2 separate regions of the Homo sapiens genome follow, and region 1 is linked to region 2. Evidence: fine-mapped expression QTL. A gene starts in region 2. The other region holds a variant in brackets. All regions are shown on one strand. Distances are from middle to middle.

Region 1 (4,401 bases), 280 kb before region 2:
CCATGATTATCTGAGACAATTCCTTAAAACAAATCACACATACACAAACACCCCTCCTATTGGTTCTGTTTTTGTGAGGAACTCTGATTGATACTCCAGGTATCAATTAAAACTATCTGTGAATAAACACAAAAACAAATTTGTTTCTAAAATAGCCATTTAATGTGGTTGTTCTTGGTTCACAGTTTTCCTACTAGTGTTGATTCAGAATCCAGATTTTTTTTTATTGTGTGCAATATAATTCCCTAAAGTAGTTCACAAAGAAGTCACCACTTCTGAAGCTTGAGGCCCCAACCACAGAGAGTTTTGTTTGCTGGTTTGTTTGTTTTGTTTTTATTTCTAGTAGATTTGATTGGCGATGAAGAATTTGCATTTCTTTTTTTTTTTTTTTTGTCAGGTTTGTCGAAGATCAGATAATTGCAGGCGTGTCATCATATTACTGCATTCTCTATTCTGTTTCATTGGTCTGTGCATCTATTCTTGTACCAGCACCATGCTATTTTGGTTACTGTAACCCTGTAGTATAGTTTGAAGTCGGATAGCGTGATGCCTCCAGCTTTGTTCTTTTCGCTTAGGATTGTGTTGGCAGTTTGGACTCTTTTTTTGTTCCATATGAATTTTAAAATCATTTTTTCTAGTTCTGTGAAAAATATCAATGGTAGTTTAATGGGAATAGCATTGAATCTATAAATTGCTTTGAGCAGTATGATCATTTTGATTATATTGACTTTTTCTATGCATGAGCATGGAATGTTTTTTCACTTGTTTGTGTCATCTCTGATTTCTTTGAGCAGTGGTTTGTACCTACATGCAGCCAACAAGCATTTGAAAAAAAAAGCTTAGTATCACTGATCATTAGAGAAATGCAAATCAAAACCACAATGAGACACCATCTCACACCAGTTGAAATGACTATTATTAAAATATCAAAAAATAACAGATGCTGGCAAGGTTGTGGAGAAAAATGAACGCTTATACACTGTTTTGTTTTTGTTGTTGTTGTTGTTTTTTGTTTTTTGTTTTGTTTTGTTTTCCGAGATGAAACCTCACTCTGTTACCCAAGCTGGAGTGCAGTGGCACGATCTCGGATCCCTGCAAGTTCTGTCTCTTGGGATCAAGCAATTATCCTGCCTCAGCCTCCCAAGCAGCTGGGACTGCAGGCCCATGCCACCATGCCCGGCTAATGTGTGTGTGTGTGTGTGTGTGTGTTTGTGTGTGTGTGTGTGTGTATTTTTAGTAAAAATGGGGTTTCACCATGTTGGCCAGGCTGGTCTCGAACTCCTGACCTCATGTGATCTGCCTGCCTTGGCCTCCCAAAGTGCTGGGATTACAGGCATGAGCCACTGCACCTGGCCATACACTGTTGATGGGACTATAAATTAGTTCAGTCATTGTGGAAGACAGTGAGGTGGTTCCTCAAAGACCTAAAGACAGAAATACCATTTGTCTCAGCAATCCCATTACTAAGTATATACCCAGGGGATATAAATTATTTATTCTATTCATATTATAAAGACACATGCACACATATGTTCATTGTAGTACTATTCACAATAACAAAGACATGGAACCAAACCAAATGCCCATCAGTGATAGACTGTATAAAGAAAATGTGGCACATATACACCATGGAATACTATGCAGCCATAAAAAAGAAGGGAACCATGTTCTTTGCAGGGACAGGGATGGAGCTGCATACCATTATCTTGAGCAAACTAACACAAGAACAGAAAAGCAAGTACTGCATGTTCTCACTTATAAGTGGGAGCTAAATGATGAGAACACACAGACACAGAGGGGACAACACACACTGGGGTCTATAAGAGGGTGAAGGATGGGAGGAAGCAGAGGATCAAGAAAAATAACTAATGGATACCAGGCTTAATACCTGGGTGATGAAATAATGTGTACAACAAACCCTCATGACACACATGTACCTATGTAACAAACCTGAAGAGTTTGCATATGTACCCCTGAACTTAAAATAAATGTTACAAAAACATCAAATGTACTGCAGTTGTTTTCCCTAGAAGGATTCAAAGATTCATAGAGGGCATGCATCAGAACAATCTAGAGTACACGAAAGAGGCAAAATTCCACAGCCCCAGTCTTGTTCTACTGAATTATAATGTCTGGTAGTACAGGCTAAGATATTGCATTTCTAACAATCTCCCCATATAATTGTGTGCCTTAAAATATTAGATGAAGTAGGCTAAGTCACAGGGAAGTGATACAGATTCAAATAAAAAGAATGCATACTTATTTTGAAACAAGCAATTATATCAAGATTTCAAAGAATAACTAATTTCTCACTTAGCACTGTTTCAAAGTAGACTCATGTTTATTATCTATTAGGCGAAAATATTTGAGGGTGGTATCAGTCTCATCAATACGCAGGTCATAGAGATTGTAAATATTCTCACCTTTTGTACATTTTTTGAGATTATGGAAATTTACAGTTTATGTAACAAAAAATAGAAGAAAAAATAAAGCTCAGTAATATTTCCAATTGACCACTGTTGGACAGGTAGAGAAAATAAGGCACAAAAACCATAAGTAGATAAAAATAAACATACGACTGTATCTTTACAAGGAATAACTTGCCATAAGTTATTGTATCCTTTCTGAGGTACAAATGCATATTGACAGAAG[A/G]CAGTAGTTTACTCCTTTAATACTGTACAGTCTATAAAACAAAACTTCACAGAATTGAAAAATGGTCTCATTCACTAATATTAAGAATTAGAATAAGTCCCCAGCTATCTTTGTTTTATCTTTAACAATTATATTAATTCCAAACTACTTTATAGTACAAAAGTTGTATGCAGTTCCAGGCTATCTAAGCAGTCTTGGAGTTTAGTTTATTTTGTTGTTGTTGTTGTTGTCTGTTTGTTTTTAATATGATCACCTTTACTTTTCCTAAATCTGGAAGAGAAATGCACAAAGTTGTAGTGGGCCTTGTATCTTATGCTTGTGGAAATTACTGTTGAATGTCTAGTGTCCTCACTCGCCCTGCTTTAAGTACCAGGCAATGCAATTCCATTGCATTCGGGAAATGCCGGAGAGACCTCGATCTCAGAGAGGTAAAACCCCACCAGGGTCCCAGGTGATGAATCATACTTTGTCAAAGCAGTAATAATCCGACTCCATTTCATCGGTGCTTAGTCTAAGGATGTTCTTATAATTCAGTGCTAGTCATGAGAAGAAATCAGCTGAAGAATCTAGTATCTCCCACTGCTATAAAGAAATAAGTGAGACTGGGTTACTTATAAATAAAAGAAGTTTAATTGGCTCTGCAGGCTGTCCAGGAAGCATGATGCTGGCATCTGCTTAGCTTCTGGGGAGGCCTCAGGAAACTTACAATCATGGCAGAAAGCAAAGGCAGAGCTGGCACTTCACAGGGCTGGAGCAGCAAGGGCTGGGGGAGGTGCCATACAGTTTTAAACAACCAGATCTCATAAGAACTCACTCACTATTATGAGAACAGCACCAAGGGCGAATGGGGCTAAACTATTCATGAGAAATCGACTCCATGATCCAATCACCTCCCACCAGGCCCAACATCCAACACTGGGAATTACAATTCAACATGAAATTTGGGCTGGGACACAAATCCAAACCATATTAGACCTTTATCACCTACTATGTAGACAAAACATATGTTTTTCTTCTGTTCTCATGCCACAGTTATCAACACAAGAAGTTTCTGTGACTAAATGTGTGGAGATTTCTCTCTGTTCACAAGCAAGCAAGCAATTTTACAGCAGCTATCAGCTGGCAGCTCCTGATCCAGTTCAATTCTGATGCTGCCTACCTGAAGATTATGTCAGATCTCCACAGCTTGAGAGCTCAGTCCCGCAAGACTGCCCCCAGTTCCTTCACCAGTCACAAGTCCAGACCCTTGGAACTTCTGATCTATTGCTTCAAGTTGGAGTTCCCATGGCCTTCTCTTTAGGCTCTATTAATTTGTTAAAGTGTCTCAGAAAACCCAGAAAAACATCTGTTTACATTTACCCTTTTATTATCAATAACATTTTAAAGGATACAAATAAACAGTCACATGGATAAATATATAGGGAGAGGTCTGGAAGGGTCCTGAGCACAGGAGCTTCTGTCTCATGGATTGGGGGCGTGCCACCCTCCTGGCACATATGTGAGCTCTTGTTCACCTTTCTGTAAGCCTTCACAAGTTCAGCTGTCCAGAAGCTCTCCATCCCCCATTCTCTTGGGCCTTTTAGGAAGACTTCCATGGAGAGGTATGACTAAGTTATGGACCACCATGTCAAAATGTGATTGGATGAAATGAGTGTGATCTAATACTGAGTGGAAAACCCAGCAAGGCCTGTCTGCCCAGATTCTTCTTGGCCCCTCTGTGCAGCATTCTTTTCTATAGGGCTTGGAGCA
Region 2 (4,401 bases):
CCCAGTACAGATTCTGACTCAATTGGTCTGGGATAGAGTCCAGGCATTAATATTTTTAGAAGCTCCTTGGTTTAATATGCAGCCAGGGTTGAGAACCACTAGAATAGATGACAGGATTGAAAACACGAATGGAAAGTCTCAATGCGGTAGAAAGTCAGAGGCTGATTTATAGTTACTTAGCAGTATGGCCCACTTCGTGGGGGATGCATGATGGTGAGAGCCAGAGACAGCTCTTGGAAAACCTGTGAATTGGGTGACCTAGATTTCAGAGCCACTGCTTGCTTTGTGGTCTCCCTGTGACATTTTCTCTGGGCCTCCCTGAGGAGGGAACACCCCCACTGAGACACTGCTCTGGGCTTTCCTTCCCACAGCAAAAGCCCATCCACTTGCTCACCCTCCAAACACAGGCGCCATCCTTTCCCCAGCTCCAGCTCCAGGTCTGGGAAGAAAATCCTCAGTTACTAAGAATAACAGTTTGACACACTTCCCTTCCCAGGGACATCTACCTTTTAATGGTGGACATGACAGAACTCAAGGAATCCTCCAGTGAGGAAGGTTTAGATGCTCAAGGGTAGACTTGTAGCACAGAGATGGCTGAATTTTTATGCCCTACTAGGTGGGAACTGACTGCTTGGACTGAACATGACTCCCAAGGCCCCTGAACTGTGGCCTGGAGAGCTTTTAGTTCACAGAGTAACTCTCTCCCTCCGTCCCCAGCACCAAACCCTTTCCATGTATAAGTGTGGACTCTGGAAGCGGCTGTTCTGGTAGCTGCAGGAGGGGCCAGGCTAGTTTTGACAGTTCTGGCCACTTCCAGAGATGGCTCTTGGTTCTCAGGCCCTTGGCTGAGCAATGGGGGCAGCTGTCAACAGCTCTCTCTCCTCTCCCCTTTCCCCAGCTGCTCTGACTCTTCATCAGCAGGCTGAGCTTCTCCAAGCCTCAGTTTCCCACAGTGCCTCCTCGCCCCCTTCTCATCAGACGCTTGCCACCCATGCTATTTACGGTCCTGGGTCTCTCCAGTTTTCATGAGAGAAGGCCAGTAACATTTTCTTAAGCGAGTGAATGAGTAATATAAATAAAATCATATGTAAATAGAAGCAATTTTTGATGACAAAACTGTTTAAATTCTCTTAATTTATTATCCTGAAGCAATTAGGAATGTCCATTTTCTTTTTGGCTGAATTAATAAAAGTATAGCAACTAAAGCAAAGACATGAGAATCCTCTTAATCTGGATACGCTGTGTTTGAAATAACGTGTTTGGTGCTTTCCACTTCTTCAGTTTTGTTATTTATTTATTTTTTAAGTAGAGACAGGGTCTCACTAAGTTGCCCAGGCTGGCCTCGAATTTCTGGGCTCAAGGGATCTACCTGTCTTGGGCTCTCAAGGTGCTGGGATTACAGGCATGAGCCACTGTGCCCGGCCCCGTTTCTATTTTAATCAAGAATATGTCAAAAGAAAGAGGAGCCAGAGACAGCCTTCTCTTAACACAAAGCAGGGTGTTGTATCTTCATCTGACAATAAGTGACTTAGTTAACTTTGATTTAATTTTGGCTTTTGGGAAGTCATGGGGAAAAGAAGTAAAGCTGAGGGTGGCGAAATACCTTTGCTAAACCCAGAGACACTGCACCTGAATCCTGCTCAGTGTTTTGTAGGCAACCAACTGCCTTCTGCCACTGGTATCCGGAAGGGGAAATGAGTTACCTTAAGTGGGCCAAAGTGGGGAAATACTAACAGTACAGCTAGAAACCAAGAGCTGTCGTGAAAGCCCTGAATGGGTTCCCACTGCTATTTCAGACAAAACTGATGCAGTTAAGCCTGAATTTCCTGGCAAGCACAAGGGTAGATTTTTCCAAAAGGCTTTTTAGACTGCAAATACACAGCCTTTCCATGTCTAATCACAAAAGCAAACTGCTGGACACATGCTCTCTGTTCCCAGCTGGTTGTGTATGTTTTCTTCACACTTCAACAGAAACGTGCCAAGGTGTGACATTTATGAATTTCGCCAACTGGGAACTGTGCACACAAATCGTTCTTGCTTGTGGTGTGGGAAAATGATGAATGGGGGCTGTTCTGCCTGGGGAGGAGGGCTGCTGTCACTCTGGCATGCCTACAGCCTTATTTATTACACACCAAAGTATAAAACCACTCCGCCGCTGCAGCTCTCAGCTCCAGTCCTGGCATCTGCCCGAGGAGACCACGCTCCTGGAGCTCTGCTGTCTTCTCAGGGAGACTCTGAGGCTCTGTTGAGAATCATGCTTTGGAGGCAGCTCATCTATTGGCAACTGCTGGCTTTGTTTTTCCTCCCTTTTTGCCTGTGTCAAGATGAATACATGGAGGTGAGCGGAAGAACTAATAAAGTGGTGGCAAGAATAGTGCAAAGCCACCAGCAGACTGGCCGTAGCGGCTCCAGGAGGGAGAAAGTGAGAGAGCGGAGCCATCCTAAAACTGGGACTGTGGATAATAACACTTCTACAGACCTAAAATCCCTGAGACCAGATGAGCTACCGCACCCCGAGGTAGATGACCTAGCCCAGATCACCACATTCTGGGGCCAGGTACTCAGAATTCTCTTCTAAGGATTTTTGTGAAAGCTTAATGAGTGTTGTTGTTGTTGTTTTGTTGTTGTTCTTTTTTTGGCTAAGATTCTTAGAATCAATGAATGCTTTCGAGAAGTTCGCTAAGCTGCTTGTGAATCTCTTTCTGGATTGCTCTTGGGTACAAGAGAGACTGTCGGTCTCTGTTAGAAAATCAGCAGAGGCAGCAATGATGTGATGGGATAGTGGCCGTAGCATCACCCCATCAGAAAGGGGAACCTGGCCAGCCAGCTTCCTGCTATGCTGGGACTTGATTTCCTTCTTGCTCTGTTGGTCCGGAAAGGAGTGCTGACCCATGCAGACAGATCGGTCACTGTAGACAATCATTTGTTGTTCTTAAGAGAATTGGGCTTTCTTCATCCCTTCCGGCAGGGAGAAGCTGCCCTTTGAGTTTGTCAAAAGCAATCAAAGTTTTTTTACTTTGATTTGTGAGTATACTGTGACATTTCATGGCAGTCTTGTTTATTTGATTTATAGCATTCTAGATTGTTAAGCCTCTCTGTTCAGCCTGTTTTAAAAAGAATTAAAGAGTTAAATAAAAAATAAACTGTTTGAAATGCATACCTTATAGCATGATTTGATGCCTGATAATCACAGAGGACTTGATCTATTTCTCAGGTTATAAATTCAGCTCTAAGGAAATATCTTTAACTCTTGGTAGTATGAGAGTGAGTTAAGATTTCAGTATAGTGAATTGCAAATTGGTGAAACTCAATGTAATTTAAAATATTAAGTACAGGAAGAGACATATTTTGAATTACCCTCTAGACATCTAGTATGCTGAAAACTGTCAGAGGGGGCAAGAAGAGTTACTTTGAGTTATATGATATTTGAACATACAGGTTTTTACTACAAGATTTGATTACTTTAATGCATTAAATAGGACCTGAAGAATTTCTTGTAATTGAAATCTAAATCCTTCCTACCATGGATTCAGAAGTTTGGGTTGGTTGTTTGGTTATATGGTCAGACCAAGATCACACACAGAATCAATTGCAGATTTGAAACTAACCCAGAACTTCTAACTTGACCACACAAGGCAGTTGCCCAAACCATTCTGTGGGGGATGCATCCAGAGAAAATTGCTTCTTTAAGGAGCCACGGAAGAAATGATAATCTCTAAATATGATCCTATCTTTTGAAAACCACTTTTAGAGATTGTCTATTCATCTGATAATCTTTTGGCTAAAGGGTAATGATTAGCACTAATTTGTGTGTGGGTTTTTGTTTGTTTTTGTTTTGTGGTGAAGATATTTTCACTTGTGTCCAAGACTTGATCTGGACTTTCCATTTCACACATGGTATCCTTCTTGGCCAACAGATGGTATCTTTCCTGGCCATGACAGTGTGATTCCCCCAGAGGAAGCAGAAGGAAGTTAAAGGTTGTCTTTGGTCATTATGTCCTGACAACCAACACCCAGCAGGCCACTGAAATTCAAATCACATTTCTCCTTCACTCTACCTTCTAGGTTCCTGAAGTATTTTCAAACAAACCACCAACAGGAGATATTGAGGATATTTAGAGTTACTGACATTCTGGAAGTTTTCACTACAACTCCTCTACCAACGGCTATGGAAACCACAGTTTGCATTTAGGATTGTGCTATGTTCTTCCTTCTTTCCCTACTTCCCCTGTCCCTCTTCTTTGATCGTAATTCAATTTTCCTCTTATTCATTCAGTTCCCGTGTATTTCTTGTGCTTCTACTTTGTACCAAACTTTAAAAGGGGGGCCAGGGATATATAAAGATAAATATGCCTGAGCTCCCATGTCCAAACCATCCTGAAGGGCTGTAGTAGAGATAAA

Which allele goes with the higher level. Alleles are on the strand shown, and positions count from the first base shown. SD is a standard deviation of normalised expression in the study named.
As copies of A replace G in region 1, the expression in testis of the gene that starts at base 2,167 in region 2 goes up (moderate effect, 0.65 SD a copy in GTEx).

Evidence for each region. PIP is the estimated chance that this variant, and not a neighbour inherited with it, causes the effect.
Region 1: its variant is fine-mapped to the expression of C1QTNF3 in testis (GTEx, PIP above 0.99).

The regions. Positions count from the first base shown.
Region 1 is chr5:34,316,340-34,320,740 of GRCh38, reverse strand. No RefSeq gene overlaps it. Among named protein-coding and RNA genes, the nearest start is that of C1QTNF3-AMACR, 190 kb to the right of the region's middle. The variant A/G (reference allele first, on the strand shown) is at 2,653.
Region 2 is chr5:34,040,979-34,045,379 of GRCh38, reverse strand. It overlaps C1QTNF3 (C1q and TNF related 3), which reads left to right and starts at 2,167. Exons shown (of 6, transcript NM_181435.6): 1 at 2,167-2,557. The coding sequence starts at 2,255. The region is part of intron 1 of C1QTNF3-AMACR (C1QTNF3-AMACR readthrough (NMD candidate)); the gene reads left to right.